Linked DNA regions of Homo sapiens: regions 1, 3 and 4 are each linked to region 2. The links come from fine-mapping of genetic effects on gene expression. A gene starts in region 2. Each other region holds a variant in brackets. All regions are shown on one strand. Distances are from middle to middle.

Region 1 (5,156 bases), 63 kb before region 2:
ATAAAAACCCTAGAAGAAAACCCAGGCATTACCATTCAGGACATAGGCATGGGCAAGGACTTCATGTCTAAAACACCAAAAGCAATGGCAACAAAAGACAAAATTGACAAATGGGATCTAATTAAACTAAAGAGCTTCTGCACAGCAAAATAAACTACCATCAGAGTGAACATGCAACCTACAAAATGGGAGACAATTTTCGCAACCTACTCATCTGACAAAAGGCTAATATCCAGAATCTACAATGAACTCAAACAAATTTACAAGAAAAAAACAAACAACCCCATCAAAAAGTGGGCAAAGGACATGAACAGACACTTCTCAAAAGAAGACATTTATGCAGCCAAAAAACACATGAAAAAATGCTCATCATCACTGGCCATCAGAGAAATGCAAATCAAAACCACAATGAGATACCATCTCACACCAGTTAGAATGGCAATCATTAAAAAGTCAGGAAACAACAGGTGCTGGAGAGGATGTGGAGAAATAGGAACACTTTTACACTGTTGGTGGTAAACTAGTTCAACCATTGTGGAAGTCAGTGTGGCGATTCCTCAGGGATCTAGAACTAGAAATACCATTTGACCCAGCCATCCCATTACTGGGTATATACCCAAAGGACTATAAATCATGCTGCTATAAAGACACATGCACACATATGTTTATTGTGGCATTATTCACAATAGCAAACACTTGGAACCAACCCAAATGTCCAACAATGATAGACTGGATTAAGAAAATGTGGCTCATATACACCATGGAATACTATGCAGCCATAAAAAATGATGAGTTCACGTCCTTTGTAGGGACATGGATGCAATTGGAAATCATCATTCTCAGTAAACTATCACAAGAATAAAAAACCAAACACCGCATATTCTCACTCATAGGTGGGAATTGAACAATGAAATCACATGGACACAGGAAGGGGAATATCACACTCTAGGGACTGTGGTGGGGTGGGGGGAGGGGGGAGGGATAGCATTGGGAGATATACCTAATGCTAGATGACCAGTTAGTGGGTGCAGCGCACCAGCATGGCACATGTATACATATGTAACTAACCTGCACAATGTGCACATGTACCCTAAAACTTAAAGTATAATTAAAAAAAAAAATTAAAAGTAGTATGCCAATGCCAGAGCCAATTTCAATGAAAAATTTGAAAAAGTACAGATTCTGAATATCCTATATATATATATATATATATATATATATATATATATATATATATATTTAATTTAACATTCTGGTCATGATATGGTTATTCACTAAATTTCACTAATCTCAATTTAAAATAATTTTTATACAGAAGGAAGCCAACAGAAACTGACCACTGAAGTCAAAATAAACTCACCTTTTTGTCTGCATAGTAGGGGTCCAAGTCCTCCAGGGGCTCTGACACCATGCCGGGAGGAATGTCCCCATAGATGAAGGGCAGCTGTTTGCCAGCTTCCAAGTCACTGCTTGGCTTTGGGGCTTCTTCATCATCATCTTTCTTTTCTTCTTTGGGTTCCTTTGATTTTCTTTCAGCAATGCGTTGTTCAATGAGGGCAAGAGACTGTTTTGTGAAATGGACAAAGCTCTGAGGTCCTGGGGGAGGCAACATTGCCATCTTTTCATCCTGTATATTTTAATTCCTCTTCAGCTCCTCACATAAGAGGCCTGGATGGAAACAAAGAAATAAAGACTTAACTATTTGCCTGCCAAGAAAGGCCCATTAAAAACTAATAATAACAACATAAACAGATTTTTAGTTTCAACTACAAAAGGTAACATGTTCTAGAATTATCAGCTTGTTAAGGGATTACTATGTGTCAGGCAATGGGCGGGACTTATCTTTCGTGCCTTCTAACCATCTTTATACTCAGAAATTTGAAGTTTACGCTTCATAGCTTTAAAGTAAAAAATGACAATTTTCTGAGTAAATTTTCCTAAATTCCCCTTCTTTTCGTCTATATTTACCTTTGGTGCAATTCAACTCAACTTTCCTCTTTTAAAAGTCTTTATGATAATGCCTTTGGTAGCACCACTCTCCAGCCTGATGCTGTTTTACCAACTAAACTTATGTAATATTCTAAATCCTCTGCTGTCACTTCAACAATGTTCATAACATCTTGACCAGGAGAAGATTCCATCTCACGAAACCACTTTCTTTGCTTATCAATCAGAAGCAACTCCTCATCCATTCAAGTTACCGCGAGATGGCAGCAATTCAGTCACAATTTTAGGCTCCATCTCTTAATTCTAATTCTCTTGCTATTTCCACCACATCTGCAGTTCTTTCCATCACTGAAGTCTTAAACCTCTCATAGTCATCCATGAGAGTTGGAATCAACTCATTCCAATTTCCTATTAATGTTTGTATATTGCCCTCCTCCCACAAATCATTAATGTTCTAATAACATCTAGAATGGTGAATCCTTTCCAGAAGATTTTCAATTTACTTTTCCCAGACCCATCAGAGGAATCACTATCTATGGCAGCTATAGTCTTATAAAATGTATTTATTAAAAAATAAGACTTAAAAGTTGAAATTACTCTTTGGCCCATAGGCTACAGAATGGATAGCGTTAGCAGGCATGAAAATAACATTAATGCCCTTGTACCTCTCCGTTAGAGCTCTTGAGTGACCAGGCACATTGTCAATAGGCAGTGATATTTTGAAAGAAAT[C/CT]TTTTTTTTTTTTCCTGAGCTATAAGTATCAACACTGGGCCTAAAATATTTAGTGAACCATGCTGTAAACAGACGTGCTGTCATCCAGGCTTTGTTGTTCTATTTATAGAGCACAGGCAGAGTAGATTTAGTATAATTCTTAAGAGATTTTCTGAATGATTAAATAATATAATTATTATTTAATTTTCTGAATAATTAAATAATATAGTTATTATTTAATTTTCTGAATAGTAAAGAATATAATTATTTAATTTTCTGAATAGTAAATAATATAATTATTATGTAATTTTCTGAATAGTAAATAATATAATTATTATGTAATTTTCTGAATAGTAAATAATTATTAATATTCTGAATAATTAAATAATATAATTCTAAGATTTTCTGAACGATAAATTAGCATTTGCTTCAATTTAAAGTCACCAGCTGCATTATCCCCTAACAAGAGAGTCAGCCTGTTCGTTGAAGCTTTGAAGCCAGACATTGACTTCTCCTTTCTAGCTATAATATATTCTTCTAGTAGAAGGCTGTTAGACCTTCATTGCAAATCTGTTGTTTAATGTAACCACTCTTATCAATGATCTTAGCTAGATCTTCTGAATAACTTGCTGCATCTTCTCCATTGGCACTTGCTGTTTCACCTTGCATTTTTATGTTATGGCAGTGACTTCTTTCCTTCAATCTCATGGGGTACCGTCTGCCAGCTTCAAACCTTTTTTTTCCAGCTTCTTCACCTCTCAGCCTTCATACAATTGGAGTTATGGCCTTGCTGTGGATTAGGCTTTGGCTTAAGGAAATGTTGTGGCTGGTTGATCTTCTATCTAGATCACTAAAACTTTCTCTATATTTGCAATAAGGCTGTTTTGTTTTCTTATCATTCATGTGTTCACTGGAGTAGCACATTTGATTTCCTTCAAGAATGTTTCCTTTGCATTCACAACTTGGCTAAGTACTTAGTGCAAGAGGCCTAGATTTTGGCCTATCTTGGCTTTCAACATGCCTTCCTCACTAAGCTTAATCATTTCTAGCTTCTGATTTAAAGTGAGAAATGCGCAATTCTTCCTTTACTTGAACATTAGGGGTGGGAATGGGTTACTAATTGGCCTAATTTTAACATCGTTGTGTGTCAGGGAACAGGGAAGCCTGAGGAAAGGGAGAGAGATAGGGATGCTGAAACAGAACACGTCACATTTAATGATTGTTTGCTGTCTTATGTGGATGTGGTTCATAGCACCCCAAAACAATTACCACAGTAACAACAAAGATCACTGATCATAGATCACCATAACACATACAGTAATAATTAAATAATGGCAATTACAAAGTTGAAATATTGTGAGAATTGCCAAAGTGTGACACAGATGCATGAAGTGAGCACATGCTGTTGAAAAAATTACGCTGACAGACTTGCTTAATGCAGGGTTGCCACAAACCTTCAACTTGTAAAGAATGCAGTATCTTGAAGTGCAATAAAGTAAAGCCCCATAAAATGAAGTATGCCTGTATTTTGATGGAAACCAAAGTTAGGATAAAGGTTTTTAAAGAATGTAGTGAAAAATAAGGGATATTTCATATACACATTCAAAAGTAGGATGATTCTGAAAGGTAAAGAGTAAGTTATGACTCGGCAATTCCACTACTTGGTACAGACTCAAGGGAATTTAAAACATATGTCCACACAAGAACGTTTACATGAATGTTCAGCAGCATTATTCATACTAGCCAAAAAGTAAACACAACCTCATTACTCACCAATGAATAAATGGATAAAGGAATGTGGGATATTCAAACACTGAATTAGTATTTAGCAATAAAAACAAATGAAGTATAGGTACATGTTACAACATGGATGTGATGAAAACCCCGTGAAAGAACACAGAGCCAAAAGGCCACATACGATATGATTCCATCTTATGAAATGTCCAGAATAGGCAAATCCCCAGAAACAAAATGTAGAGTATTTTTTGTCAGAGGCTGGGTGTAATAGGAAGTGATTATTGATGGTTATGTGGTTAATGGTTAAAGAGTATGGGGCTTCTTTTGGGGTGATAAAAATATTCTAAAACTACATAATGATGATTGTTGCATACCTTTGTGAACATACTAAAAACCACTGAGTGATACACTTTAAAATGGTGATTTTTTATGGTGTGTAAATTATATCTTAATAAAACTACTATGAATATGCATTAAGAATTTTGAATCCTAAAATATGTGAAAATTGTCCTCAGAATAGGAAGAGATTTAGTAAAAAGGAAACAAATCAATGAATCAAATCAAAGCAGTTGCCACTTGTGCTTTGGAGATTCCTCAACACTTTTGGAAATCATAAAGGTGAGAAGACGGGATAACTTGCCTCACTAGACTTTCAGTGTAGACATACTGTGGCTCTTGAAGAAAAGTTGGCTTGAATAACTGGTGTTTTTGTAGATTCTACATTCAACTGGAGGGTACCATCTCTTTCAAGAATTATTTGACA
Region 2 (5,156 bases):
CTGTAACAAGCAGTATGAAAGAAACAAGGTTCCAACATCAAGACCAACACGGGACAACCTACTTTTAACAAGATGATCAAAAATGATCTTTCCAAAACAAAAAAACCTCGAGTTGAGATTTAAAGTTTAAGAAGGAGTAAGCACGCATAGAGTTCAGGCATTGGGAACAGCATTTGAAAAGGCCTTAAAGAGTGCTATTGTTTCATGTGTTTTAGCCACGACCTGGGCAGGAGCACCTTAATGAGAAGAGAATAGGTTCTGGTGAGGTTGGAGAGAAGGGACAGAACAGAGAGTAAACCATATGCTGAGGAAAGGCATTTACTGTTGTTGCTAATTGGTCTCTGTGTTGCCATGTTTATTTCTTCTTCTCCTCTTCTTCTTCCTCTTTTTTTTTTTTTTTAAATGCAGTTGTGAGCCAATGTTTGTTAGGGGAGACAGGATGGTATTGCTTTGTATAGAGAATGAATTGCAGGGGAGAAAATTACAGAAGTGGAGAGATTGATATGGAGGCTGTGGCAGGATTCCAAGTAAATTATGATGATGACCTGAACTAATTTGGTGGCCGTGTAGATACAGAAAAGAGGGTGAATGAGAGGCATCTGAGACGTATGATGAAATAGAAATAAGTTTGGGAGATAAGATTGATAGATCTACTTACAGGCTGGAAAGGGCTGAAATGGAGTAATAAGGAAGAGAGCAATCAAAGGTGATTTCAATACTTGGATGGTGAAGGCATTTATTCAGATAATGAAGATGGGAGGAAAGAATCTGAGACAGAGTTTTAGGGAAAGTCATAAATTATTATCATTATGACATCTAGAATGTTCCATTTACATCAATAAACTTTAAGCTCTTTTACAAGATCATGACTTGTCTTAGAAAAGTACCATATAAATCCTTCTAGCACTTCACACTCTTTTGCATAACTAATAGGAATAGAAATTGGATAAAAAATAGATTTTATTATTCATGTAAAATGAAAAATTCTACTTTTTTCCTTGCCACAGAGAAAGTGGGTTGATTATATTAAATAAATAGAACCCTACTGATTGCTCTTCTGAATTTATTTATTTGTTTATCTATTTTGCTTCTGAAACTCAGCACAGCAACAGGTAGTAAAAACATAGAAGCATTACCACAGAAGGGCTCCCATGATTATATGCAGGCCCTAGGGGAAAGGAGGCCCAAGATGCTTTTGGCAGAGAGCCAGACCTGACTCATCTTTCTTCTGTAGAAGCATCAGGTACTCTGTGAGCCTAGCCCTGCACCATAGGAATCAAGGCATATCATATATCCAGTCACTGTAAAAACACATCACTGAGTCCCACAACTGCACAGTGGCTTACTTAAGGAAACCTCCTTTTAAACCTCTACAAAATTTTAAAAAACTTGTCTTAAGCCAAACTATCAGTTGCCTAAATAGAGGGCACATTCTTCTTTACATCAAATACCATATTCTGTCTAGAGTTTTGTTGTTGATAAGCTAGTCTAACAATCATGAAAATTTGCGACACAGGGATCAGATAAGACTAGCTTTCAAACTAATCAATAATTTTTAAAAAATCTCACCATAATTATAAGAAAAAATTATAAACTTTTTTAAATAGTGGAAAAAATCTGAAGAATTTGCAATAAAATGAACAGTTTAATAATTGGATTTGGTTTGCAGTTTATATAAAATAGGTTTATATTGATGTTAAAGCAAAAATTATAAAATATATTTAAATAACAAGGAAAGAAAGAGAAAGAAAATCTTTATCTTGTCTACAGGGAAGAAGAAATAGAAAAGAATAATAAATATGTTTCTGAAAAGAACTGAACTTCCCAACACTGACTTCCTATTCAGTAACTGACAAGCTATCACTTCCTTGAAAGCTTACTTTGATTTGGCTTTTATCTTACTGACACTAGCTTCTTAAAAACCCCCCTAAGTTTCTCATGTAAATTGCTCTTAACATCAGAGTAGATATAATCTATGAACGCTCCAACTTAAAAAAAAAAAACTAAAATAATGAGTGAAATGTTTACTATAATCACAAAAACTGGCATTAATGTTTCTAGTTTCTTGTTCTGATTTTTGTCTTGAATATAAGGCACGAAAATATCCATTTTTTCCTAAAAGTAAATGAGTTTCCCAAGTTGAATTCGATAAAAAGTTAAAAGGATTCTGCATCTTTTCTGAATTTCACTATAAAGTGCTTATTCGAAAAAATAAATAAATAATCTGCGCTGAGAAATAGGGGCAGAGCTGTCCTGTCAATTATTTGTGTTTGTGTGCTCTTAAGGGGTGCGGGGTTCTTTTCTGTCCCCACAGGTTGTATCTGCTAAGCTGGTTCTGCACGCTCAGCTTTGCAGATGGGAAATACAGCACATGCTTTTTGCTCGTAAAAAATGTGAGCTGCCCCTTGAATTGAAGTCCATCTAACAACTCTGCTAGCGTAAACAGAAATAAAAGACAGTAAACCACCAGGCATTGCTACCCTTCCTTTCCACAGTTTCAGAACCTGGCAGCAAACCCACAGAGTCAAAACCGCACAGGAGCTGCCCAGCTATCGAAATAACTACGCTTCCAGCCCTTCTTCCTCCCATTGCTGGAACCACCCGGTCAAGCTTCTCCCCTCTCTTCTTTCCAGGTGGCGTAATACAGGGTTCCAGAACCGAGATGTGAAAATAGACACAGGTGGGTGTGGCGGTTGAGGCGAGCACGGGCGAAAGACCGAGGGCTTCTCCTCCCCTCCCCACAGAAGCAGCAAAAGAAAAGGCACTTACTTGCAACCTAGCCCGCCGATCATCCCCACCCAGTGCACCTGCAGAATCTGGCTCCAGGAGAGGGCGCGGGCCTCTCCTTCCCCGGCGCTCTCTCAGGGCTGCTTCTTTTTCTCTGGGCTCCTGTTGCTCAGGGGACGCCTGCCGCTAGCAGCCACTGGCACCCAGGCTAGCCCAGCCTCAGCCGAGCTGGCGGAATTGGAAAGCCGACAGCCGCCGCTGGAGCGCTGGCGACCGCCTGCAAGCAGACTGCGCCCCTCCTGCCAGGGCGCGCCCGTGGAGGTAGCAGCCCCGCCTCCCCGAGGGCAGCTGCGCCGCTTTGCCTCCTCCACTCCTCCCAGCGCGCCCGGGTCCCCACCCCTTGCTCCCTCCCTCCCTCCCTCTCTCCACTCCTGCGGGCGGCGCAGGGCGGGGACCCAGCTAGGGGCGCGGTGGTGGCGACGCTGTAGCCTCTGCACCATGCGCTAATAGAAGGCGGAGGAGGGGGTTGCACGACCTGCCATCCACGGCCACCCATTGGGTGGGGCGTGTGTGTGTTTGAGTGTGTGTGTGTGTGTGTCCAGCAGCCAGAAGAGCCCTTCCCTTATCTCACCCCCGCCCCCATCATCCCTTTCCTCCCTTCCTGCTCAGCAGAATCGGCTAATGTTTCCGAGAAGTCACTTTGTGTGGCTTGGTGGGGAGCTGGAGAAAAACTCCGGAGCAGAGGAGGTGGGGACCAATGGCAAAGCCCTGAGTCTGGGGCAGTGGCTGGGGAGCCAGACAACACCGCCAGGCCAGCGCCTCCCCGACCTTGGGCTCTGAAGAGTCTAGGCTGGGAATTGGTTTCTTCCGTAGGGCTTTGCTCACAACCGCGAGTGGGGCGGTGACGCTCAAGACCGGTATCTAGGCTATGTTTTCTGTTTTCTTTATATATATGTATATATAAAATCAATTGAATTGCAGCGTCTTCCAGGCAAGCAAATAATACATTTTCTTTCGAAGATGCAGTGAAGAATCAGAGGAGGTCCTAGGTGGGGAAAGAAACGTGGGGAAAAGGCTGCTTTTCCAGACCTGGGACCCGATTATCTGAATATGCCATCAGTCATATGGGTTCTGAATTTCAGAGCTGGTAGGAGCGACTGTGAAAATAAATTTTTTAAAAATTCATTTTGTGTGGAGTGTGTGCGTGCGCTTTCCTACAGCAGCCTGGGAGGAAGAACAATGGAAACAGGGTTGAATTATCTTTCTCAAAGAGAAACAGGAAATTTCCACCAAGGGAAGAAATCAAAGGATGGCCATAGGGCAGGGTGCCTCTCAAAAGGGCAGACCACTTTGCAGGATAAACACTAGTGACGGGCACTTTTATTATTTGCTTCCACACCTTCTATCATGGAAATGATGCTTAGAGATAACCGGAAGGAAATCAAATCCCAGGGTCTACTTTTCCCTGCTGCTTTCTTTGCTTCTGAGATTTGTCCTGGGGCTTTGGACCTTACATTCTTGACTTGTAAGATGTGCTATTGAAGGAAGGAAACTTCAGTGACTGAGACTGTGCAATGAAGGTGAACTAGCTCACTTGTGATAATTCTCAGTGCCATATCCTGGACAAATCGCCTTCTCTTCCCTGATTGGTGGTAGATATAGGAAGAAGAGTTCAACTGCAATAGGAATAATGGTCTTTTTTATTAGATGCAAGCAATGCCACATTCTTTTATTTTTAAAATTTTATTTTTAGAGCAATTTTAGGTTCACAGCAAAACTGAAGGGAGGGTACAGAGATTTCCCACATAACCGCTACTCCCACACAAGAATAGCCTCCCCCATTATCAACATTCCCCACCAGAATGAAACATTTGTTAAAATTAATGAACTTACTTTGAGGTTTCATTATCTCCCAAGGTCTGTAGTTCACATTTAGGGTTAGCTCATGGTGTTGTCCATTCTATGGGGTTAGGCAAATATATAATGACATGTATCCACCATTACAGTATCTTACAGAGTAATTTCAGTTCTCTCCTGAATTCTCTGTGTTCCACTTATTCATCTCCCATTTCAACCCCTGGCAAGTACTGATCATTTTACTGTCTTTATAGTTTTGCCTTCTCCAGGATATCCTATAGTTGCAATAATACAGAATATAGCCCTTTCAGATTGACTCCTTTCACTTAGCAATATGCTTTTAGTTTTCCTCCATGGCTTTTCATAGCTTGATAGCTCATTTCTTTACAGTGCTGAATAATATTCCATTGACTGGTGGTACCATAGTTTATTCATTCACCTACTGAAGGACATCTTGTTTGCTTCCAAGTTTTAGCAATTATGCGTAAAGCCTCTATAAACATCTTTGTGAAGGTTACTGTGTGGACATGTTTTCAAGTCCTTTGGGTGAACATCAAGGAGCACAATTGCTG
Region 3 (5,156 bases), 51 kb before region 2:
TATGTTCAATTAAAGAAAGAAGAGTTGGAATGAGGGGAAAAACTGAATGAAAAAAATGGAAGTTGAAGGAGAGAAGGAAGATGATAAACCAAAAAGGGTAAAAAAAAGTTTTTCAATGTTTTAATATTTACTTTTTAATTCTCAACATTTTAAGCATCATTCATGTCACTTATATCACTTCATTCCAATTATAGCCTGGCAAAATCTTTTTTTTTTTTTTTTTTTGGTAACTCTTATTCTCTCCAAGTTCTTTTGAGGCATGCAGTGCTCCTCCTCAGAGTTTTGCTCATACTCACTCATCCCTCATCCTCCAAACCTGTCAGCTCTAAAGCATCCTCAGTCAATCTGTTGTCAAGCAATAAGCAAGAAGAAGGAAGAACTCTTGATGCTGTAAAATAATCAAGAGTTACATTAGGTCTTTCCTAGCATTTATTTTAAAACGCTGATCTTCCAACTTTCAGGAATGTGTAACAACATTCAAAAAGAAAGGACAAAGATACTAAAAGAAATAGATTTATTTTATCAGCCTAATAACTAAAAATTTGTATTACTTTATGAAACACTACTTAGAAAACACTTTTTTAAAAAAAATTTCATTTTATTTGAGTTTCTATAGTTTCTTCTTAATTTGGAGCTTTTGTAAAATCTTTAATATACAGCTCGATTTCCATTTGATCCAATGTAAAATGAATAAAATCCTTCAGCAACAGTTACAATATATATCATGAAGTGTACTTCTATTCCATACAGAACAATTCACACTGGTTTCAGTGGCTCACAGGTCAATAATCATCTTGGCCTTTCCCATTACAATTTGTGCTCCACATTTTAGAGCTGTTGACCCTGTGGAGATGACATAACCTCTCTGAGCCTAAGATTCCTAGTTTGAAAAATTGAGTTAATAATCATGCTCCGAAGAGTGGTTTAGATTGTGATGGTTAACTGTATATAAAGTGCTTAACAGGAAGAGTTTTGCACATAATGAACACGTATTCATGGAGCTCATAAGATTATTAACTTGTCTCATCCTTCTATTTTAATTCCTTGCTTTGGATAATTTTATCATGCTTCCATAATTAAAATATATTAATTATATTAAATGAGGATATTTCCATTTATGGGAATGTATTGGCCTTTTAAACATGAAACATTTCATATGAGCATGTAATATTAAACAGAGATTTAGTTTAGAGTAGTGAGTCTAGGACAAGTTCAGGAGCTAGAAAGCCTGGGTTTTGAATACTGGATTCACTACTTACTAGCTAAATGATCTTGGACATCCCAGTTAAGCAACTTTTCTGATTCTAAAAATGTTGAGGCATTTAGGACATTATTTATTTTGTAAAATGTAATTTTAAACAATACAAGAGTATCCCTAGAATGACTGTTGATTGCTCAAAGGATTGGGTCACTGCAGAATTTCCTTTCTTAAGAAAATTCCCATCATTTCACCTTTGTTGTTTTGAACTTTATATGAAGACTTGCAAAATATTTTTTAATTAGACAAAGTCATGTGGCTCAAGAACTATCATTAAGACTTTTTTCTTTTTTATTCATTGAATATTGCTGAACAGGGTCAAAAGCAAATAAATTCCAACACTTGGTTTATCTTCTGAGAAACATTTAAATATCATTAATGTAATCTCTGAACAGAATACAAGAATGATCCCTTCCTTCAAGCAAAGAAATATTACAGTCTCTCCAGAGTTTTAGAGACTCTGTGTGCCTGGTATGGCTCTGAACATACTATTTGGAAAACGGTATTCTTGAAGTCAAATATTGGAAGCAGACATCAGGAAAATTATTTGGGGGACTTCCTTTCATCCCCAAGGTACTATGAAAACCCTTCACATAGGGAAAATCTATAGGATGAGGTGGGAAGTGGGTTTCCCTAAGTGTTCACAGTAAAAATTGTAAATCCTCTAAAAAATCACTGAAGTAAACACCAACACTAATTTTTACCTAATAACTAAAAGGAAAAAATGTGAGTTGTGCCCATTATATTAGACTGGAAAAGGTCTCAGTGGCCTCTATTACCTTCTTGGCCACATAACAGGTACTAAATACTCCAAACTGCAGTTCCCAAATGATTTATTAGTGTCAGGGCACCAATTCTATTGTGGCTCAGTTAGAGTATGTGCATATTATGTCCATATAATTTTGTAATATGTTGTGCTTTTGTAATAATTAATGTTTATCTTATATATGAAAGCTATATTTATTTAAGAGAATAAGTTATTCTCTTAAAAATATCTCCCAGATAATTCCTTTAAACAGTATGTTTCCTTTGATAACTTTTGACATCTCTTGTAGAAAGCAAGTAGTGTTTACTTGTTTGTTTCTTTAATCTTGATTAGAGGGACTATGATATGACATTTTCTTATTTCAAGGAGCAGGAAAATAGCTACAC[G/A]CTCACAACTCTATATTTTCTTATTTCAAGGAGCAGGAAAATAGCTACATGCTCACAACTCTATAATAATTTCAGGCTGTTTTGCATTCCATCACTGAGCCTCTTACCTGTAAATAACTTAATCTTATTTCGATAAAATTACAACAATTAGCCAGGTGTGGTGTGGGCGCCTGCAATCTCAGCTACTCAGGAGGCTGAGGCAGGAGAATTACTTGAACCCAGCAGGCAGAGGTTGCAGTGAGCCGAGATCGCGCCACTGCACTCCAGCCTGAACCAGAGAGCGGGACTCCATCTCAAATAAATAAATAAATTTATTTATTTAAAATTGGTCCAATTAATCATTTGGAAGATCTGCCAAAATCTGAATGAGATTGAGTCAGTATAAATATTTAAGACAGTGGACAAATGTAAAGATAAATAAAAAATACATTTTTATTGATGCTAACTGTTGTAAAATGAAATACTGCTTTGAAAATGTCACTTCTCTAGAAACACATAGTGATTTTTTCCTGCAGGTAAAATCTTGACTGAAGTACCATTAATTTTTAAAGCATTCTCAAGGCACCATAGAATCAGAACATGAGAACCTAAAAAGTTTATTTAAATCATAGTTAACATCAACAACGATAACTCATTGACAATGTGTACCATTGATACTATGTGATGAGAATGGCCTTTTACATATGTGATCTTCCTTCCCAAAACTTATAGCCTTAATCTAACCATGAGAAAAATATCAGACAAATACCAATTCAGGAACATTCTACAAAATACCTAACCTATACTCACTCAAAGTATCAACATCATCAAAAACAAGGAAAGCCTGAGAAATTGCGACAGCCTAGAGATGCTTAAGGTGATATGATGGTATGATGGTTAAATGTAATGTGGTAGCCTGGGTGAGATCTTGAAAGAGAAAAAGGAAATTAGTGAAAAACTAAGGAACTCTGAATAGGGTAAGGGCATTTGTTAATAATAATGATGTATCACATGGTTTTGTTAATTGTGACAAATGCGCCATACTAATATAAACTGTTAATAACAGGGGAAACTGGATGTGGGGTATATTGAAACTGTCCTTACTATCTGCACCATTTTTCCATAAATCTATTCCAAGACAAAAGTTTAAGCAAAAGGAAATCACAGATGTAGAATTATTCTAATATTAAATAAAGGTAATAATAGCTCAGTGAATTTGAATTTATCAGGTAAATGCATTGCCATTATCTATATTATCTATAATATACCTAAGTGATAATAGACATAAATTTGAACCACTTTTAATTAAAATGAATTACAATTAATACATTAAAAATACATATTTTACACAGTACAAAATAGCATTGCTTTGATCAATAGGAGATCCATTAGAAATGCTGATCAGTTTTCTTAAAGTAATCATGCCTGGGAGGATAATTTTCTATAAATGCACTCTCCTGGGTCAGGAATGAGCTTATGACTTATAAACATAGAACTAAACTGGAGTCACAATGTCTGAGTCCTAATTATACTTGAGAGTCATTATGTCTTATTATAATAGGCTAAAAAAATACACTTATGAGGGAATCTGTGTGTATTTTCTTTTAGAATAAGTACAATTTAACTCCCTCAACCATGGTAAGCATACTAAATATCTTTTAAGTTGTTAAATTGAAGCTTTATTACATATCCATCTTAATGATGCCGTTAAGGTACAAAAGGCTGACTTTTGATTTCTGTGTTACTTTAGGAACTGTGAGGTAACATAGAGATAAAAGAAATGTATTTGACTCTGAGATTCTCATTTTACTGAGCTCTGAACACCTGATAACATCATCAGAGCAAGACAAAAATACAGCTCCACTCTGGCTGACAAGGATACGCTTAACCCTGGTTTATAACTACAAAAGCCCCTTTTGTCAATAATATTTTAAATTACTCTCCTATGTTCGATAACATCACCTTCATAACTTATCTACTCATAACATAAGACTTCCCATGATAAAAGAGAAATATGTCATCAGGAGAGATGAGAGAGGCAATGTTTCCTTCCAGTATGAACTCTTATAGGCCTTCTCCCATGAAAACAGAAAAATTTCCAGATGGATCTGAAAACTCTGTTCTATGTCTTGGCACCAAGAAAATATTGGAGTCCTTCCTACACCTGGCCTCCGATTGAATAAGTGAAATATCAAGATAATAAAAATTCTATATGTCAATAACAAGATAAAGCTGAAACATTCAAAGACAATAAGAAGTACAATTTAGTCATTGAATAGCTCTACAGTTTAGATAAGAAAGTCAAAGGTGCGAAACGATTGAATCTGGAGAATACAGGGGAAAAATAATACTTAAACCAAGTCTATATCCATTCCTATGTGCTCCTTGAATTATAAGGGTATCTCAGTATTTCTCATTTTACTAATCTAAATACCTGATAACATCTTTGGAGGAAGGAAATAGACAGCTCTACCCTAGCTGTCAGGGTTACACTTATAAATTTGATTCAATCCTTGGCAGGATGTCTACAGCATTTATGTTCCAAGCCAGGATTTTGTGTCAAGAATAAATGCTACACAACACAGAAAATACCAAGACAGCAGGAATGACCTTGGACTGTTCTAGGCAAGCTTAGATATATGATGATCTTACCATTGAGAGATCCTTGGAGAAATAGCCAAATAGGACCCAAGGTCCTGGCACCACCTCATAATACTTTTCTTTTTTTATGAGAGCATATTAGACTAACCATCCTACTGACTATTCT
Region 4 (5,156 bases), 28 kb after region 2:
TAAGACCTGGGTGATGAAATAATCTGCACAACAAATCCCCATGACACAAGTTTACCTATGTAACAAACCTGCAATTGTACCCCTGAACTTAAAATAAAAGTTAAACAAAAAAGAAAAAGAATAACATATTATATTATTCCATTAATATTAACTGTCTAGAACAGATAAATCTATAGAGACAGAAAGTAAATTCATGGTTTTCTAGGGTTAGGTGATGGTGGAATATGGAGTGACTCTCAACAGAGATAAAACTGTTATAAACTTGAATTGCTGTGATGCTTGTACAGCTCTGTTAATATACTAAAACCATCTAATTATATACTGTACAAGGAGAATTTCATATGTTAATCATGTCTCAATAAATATATTTTAAAAAGAATGATAGACAATACGAGCAATTTCATGTATAAGATAGGTTTTGCTTGGTAATTGAGAAAACCCACTTTAAGTGTTCTCCTTTTTTAAAATTTTAGAGACAGGGTCTCACTATGTTGCCCAGGCTGGTCTTGAACTACTGGGCTCAAGCAATCCTCCCACCTTGGCCACCCAAAGTGCTGAGATTTCAGAAATGAGCTACTGCACCCAGTCTAAGTGTTCCTTTGAGGTCACCTCAACCTTAACACTCTTGAGTTGTCATTTTTCTTTCCCTCATATGAACACATTCTAGAATCCAACTCTACCATCTCATGCCATTTTTTGAATGCTTTTTGCATAAACATACAAGTAGAGAGACTTGGGGTTTATGGACTCTATTTTTCACACTTCTATATTTGCTGTCACTTCAGCTTAGGATGTCATTCCTCATATTCATCATGACCTCCAACAAAATCCCATTTACTTGAACACTTAGCTTAAGATCCAGCTTTTCTGCTAAGTTCAGTAAGATTTTCCACTAGCCCTTGTTGAGGATCTCCATTATTGGAAGGGAGTTAACAAATAGTTCCAACATGGTGTTTTACTTGTCACACTAAGAAATGACTTTTTAAAGATAAGAGCAACCCTATTTATCTCTAAATTGTTGTGCCTAATACCTAGGAGGTGCTCAACAGATTTTTATTACAGGACAACATGGAGGGAGAAAATAAGGAAAAATGGTGATAAAATTGTGTATAAATGTGGACTGAGAACTTATGGATCATTTGAAGGTGTAGGCTTTCAAAAAGCCTAGACCAGAATCAAGGAGTATAGGGTTACGCCACCTGGATAGAGAGTAGAACCTAGGGCTGGAGTTGAGATAGAATTATTTGAGTCAGTGTGTGATTATAAGTAGTTGAAGACAGAGGTTTCCATACAGATGAGGAGATGATTAAGTGTCTAAGCCTGAAAGTTTTAGTTTACCGAACATAAAGATGAAAATTTCCACTTGTGAAGACTCAAATCATTCATTGGAGTTCTTTATTAACCATCATAGCTAAGAATGCAGACCCAGAATTTATGGAAAGGAACAGACAACAGAAGAGAAAGTTCAAAAACCAAAGGGAAAAATAAAACATGTCTGAGAAGGGATTTGAGGTGTCCAGAGTAATTCTGCTCAGATTTTCTAGCTAATCTCTGCAATAGGGATTGCATCGTCTCCTTGGTTCATATCTCTTTATCCTCCAGGCTGAAGAACTATAAGCTGGATGCCTAGGTCTCATATCTGTGGTGGACTCTTCTCCTTAAAAGTGCCTCTGTGTTTAATAAAATTGCCTTCTTTAATTGACAAAGTCCTCCTTTCTCTGCAGGAGCCCACTTTACTCACTTCACCTCTGATATCCAACACAGAACCCATCATTCCTGCCTATATGTGTATTACAATGTACACTCACAGTATAAAAATTATCACATATTATAACCAGCTGCATATTACGTTTCCCCCCAGTAGTCAGTAAGCCCTTCAGTCTCAGATATATCTTTATCTGAATAGGATCTGAGTTTACCTTTAGTATTCAGCATTCACAAAACGTTGAATTTTTCAACTTCTATAATTTTATCCCTTA[T/C]GACTTCCCTTTTTCCAGGGAATGTCTCTACTTTTAAAATTTACTGCACCAAATGGGGAAAGTGGGACAGCGGGAGATGGAGAGCGAGCGAGCGAGAGAGCGAGTGTGAGAGAAAACACATTAAGGCTCTGTAACTGGACCTGGTTTAGAGTCCTGGCCTTTTTACTTATAGGGTCTCTGCCATATAAAAACTTCATAACCTTTCTAAACCTAACTTTTTTCACTCATGAACTGAGAGTGATCACTTCTTCATGCACGATAAATACATACGATAAGGCTGGGCATAGAAGTGTGCTCAATAAATGGTAGCTGTTACCATTATCTTTAAAACAATTTCAAGTGTATTATATTTACTAATGAAGCACAATAAAATTTTTGAAGATGCAGAAATTGATAAATAGTAGTGTACCAATAAATTTAATTTCAGTATTATCTTCCAGAAAGCAAATTCTAATAATACGAAAATATATCTAGTAAAATTATCATTATAATTTTGATAAGAAGAGTGATCATTTTACATCTTGTTAATGTGTAGGGGCCACTGGTAAGCTTACTAAAATGTATTTTACAAAATTATGTGATCTAAAGAAAGCACAACTGTTTCCAGTTTTAAGCCTGAATTAACAAACTTTAATGTAAAGCTTATTTTTAAAAAGTATACTACACAAAGTTGCCAATGTGATTTATCAAATTAAAAACAAACATAGCTTAATGTGGTTTACAGGTTATATTTATTATTTTCTATAGTATCTAAAAAGTAACATATATTGTTAAGACTTTGTTAAAAATAACTCTTTACACAGCTTTCGGAAGGTAACTGGCAAACAAGGTTTACAAGTAAAAGATAAACTTTTCAAACTAAAATCAGTTTGTTGTCTTTACGCAATTTACAGAAGCAAGTTATGATTCAATTTAAGTATCTGAAGCAGTTTCCACAATAAAGCATTCCCAAGAAATAGAAAACGGAGCTTAGATAAAGCACCAGCTGTCACATTGTCACCAAGTTAACACTGGTTCCTCACTGGTCTCCATAACATGATGGAGAGCAGGAGAAGAAAGGGAAGGAACACTTAGAGAGGAAAAAAAAAAAACCCTGAAATCTGAAATTACATTTACTTAGGGCATCCCCTAAAGGCATCTTGGTTAGGTTATTCAATTTCTGAGGGGCAGAAAAAGATTATAGTAGTTAAGGCTTGAGATCATGCATTCAGAATAAAATACAATCACTGATACATAAACTATATTGAATGTTATACAACATATTTAAAGGATGATATTTAAATCAATAATATATAAATTTTCTTTCTGAATCTTTTAGGACTTAGCAGGCACATTGAAATCAATCTTCATAAAGTTGGAATAACTCTCAGAATCTCAAACTACATAGAAGTAAATGACTATATTTGTATGAATAAGTCTAAGGACAACTATTTATGCCTATCTTTAAAAAACAATTTCAATAGTGAAAACTAATGTTTAGGATTTTACAGTTCTTTGAATATAAAACATTTTATAGAGTATGGATGTATATGATGAGATTAAAAAACTTGAAAACGTAAATATATAAGGGAAAACTAACTTGTACATACTGTTATAAAACAACAACAAATTTAAACTTTTATCTCCTAATTCATAGTTCTCATAGTTTGAGTGACCATTGTCTCTCTCTAAGTTATAAAGAATTATAACATACAGTAAAAAGTACTTTAAAGTTGCCACAACTTTCCAATTAAGGGCCAAGACACTATGAGAATCCCTATACATAATGGTAGTTCTCAACTCTTCTAATTCATGTTTAAACATACATTTGTCAGATCTTATATATTCAATGTTACATTAGAAATAACTGGTAAAAATACATCAATTTCATAAGGTAAAGCTTGAGTCTATTAACATGTTATTTATTACATCATTTTAGTAAATGTATACTTTTTAAAAAAATAGGTGTAAATGAGAAGAAAATGAAAAAAAAAAAAAAAAAAAAGGCTATACCTCTCCTTTATGCTTCTTGTTTTACGAATCTGTCCTGCTTAAGAGCCAGAGCTTAGGTGAAACTATCCAGAGATGAGAAACCAGGAGCTTGAGCACAATGAAATCCTATTCATTCCCAGTTCCAAATGAAAACAAGAACATACAAAAATAAACACAGAGCTTCAACCAATCTTTTTCAAATGCAGTTTTAATCAGCCCAAGAATCTCTGAGGTTGATCTCAAAGGCACTTTCTAAAGAACTGCTCTCTCCCTTCTTCCAATTGGCTTTTGTCTAGGCAAGTTTATGATTTAATGGCCATTAGCATTTCACCATCCCACATCAGGAAAGTATTTGCTTATTTGTAAGTCTTAATAGTGGTGACTTAAAGCCCATTAAATTATACATAAAATATAAAAGAAAGCCCCTGCTGCTGCTGATCTCTATCACCACTTCCCTTCATTCCCTAGAAGGCACACATCATATAAGCCATGTAGAGAAAACAAATATGAGATTGTCAAATGGCCACTTTAACCCACTTTAAACTCACTGCAGCAATATTAAGGATTCTCTTGATTTGTTAGATATAATGCTAAAAAGTGAATTTGGCATGAAGTCTTGTGAATACAAGCTTAATTACCATCGGTTGTAAAGAACTGATTATTATCTCTACTTTTCTTTTATTCCTGGCTTAGGCTTTCAACATTTTTCAGATATGTGAAGAAATATGAAAAGAGGTGGTAAGTGGTATTAGATCTGGCTTTGAATAGGTGACTTTTCCTTAGCTTTGTCAAAATAGGCACCTTCTTTAGTAGCATGAACATCTCTGTCACCATCTATCATATGAATATCTGATGTATTTTTGTCATTTCGCCTCAAGCGGTAATTTTTATAAGCACGTTGAATGATGGTTGCTGAAACTGCCTCTTGTTTTCGTTTCAAAGTAGTCGTAATTGGCTCACATGTGATCTTAAAAGGGTTGGCTAACAAAAACCCTGATTCTATTTCTGAAACAACTTTCTCCATCCTCACATCTTGACCCATAACTCTCTTTGTAAAAGCAAGTAAGATATCGAGGCAATGAATTCTGTCCCCAACAGCCATGGGGAGGTCCAAAGCAATGAGCTGGCCCTTGTTTGGTTTTGCCATGAAAAGAGGAGGATCAAGAGCAGCTGCAAAATCTGAAAGCTTGCTAGAGTCTATGTACT

What was found. PIP is the estimated chance that this variant, and not a neighbour inherited with it, causes the effect.
Region 1: its variant is the best candidate, but not a certain one, in a credible set for the expression of SCN9A in monocytes after interferon gamma (Fairfax 2014, PIP 0.63).
Region 3: its variant is the best candidate, but not a certain one, in a credible set for the expression of SCN9A in whole blood (TOPMed, PIP 0.89).
Region 4: its variant is the best candidate, but not a certain one, in a credible set for the expression of SCN9A in blood mononuclear cells (TOPMed, PIP 0.58).

The regions. Positions count from the first base shown.
Region 1 is chr2:166,310,139-166,315,294 of GRCh38, forward strand. SCN9A (sodium voltage-gated channel alpha subunit 9) reads right to left here. Exons shown (of 27, transcript NM_001365536.1): 2 at 1,361-1,668. The coding sequence starts at 1,618. Among named protein-coding and RNA genes, the nearest start is that of SCN9A, 63 kb to the right of the region's middle. The variant C/CT (reference allele first, on the strand shown) is at 2,678.
Region 2 is chr2:166,372,928-166,378,083 of GRCh38, forward strand. SCN9A (sodium voltage-gated channel alpha subunit 9) reads right to left here and starts at 3,017. Exons shown (of 27, transcript NM_001365536.1): 1 at 2,770-3,017.
Region 3 is chr2:166,321,588-166,326,743 of GRCh38, forward strand. All of the region lies in intron 1 of SCN9A (sodium voltage-gated channel alpha subunit 9), which reads right to left. Among named protein-coding and RNA genes, the nearest start is that of SCN9A, 52 kb to the right of the region's middle. The variant G/A (reference allele first, on the strand shown) is at 2,411.
Region 4 is chr2:166,400,882-166,406,037 of GRCh38, forward strand. SCN7A (sodium voltage-gated channel alpha subunit 7) reads right to left here. Exons shown (of 26, transcript NM_002976.4): 26 at 2,692-5,156. The coding sequence ends at 4,699. Among named protein-coding and RNA genes, the nearest start is that of SCN9A, 28 kb to the left of the region's middle. The variant T/C (reference allele first, on the strand shown) is at 1,980.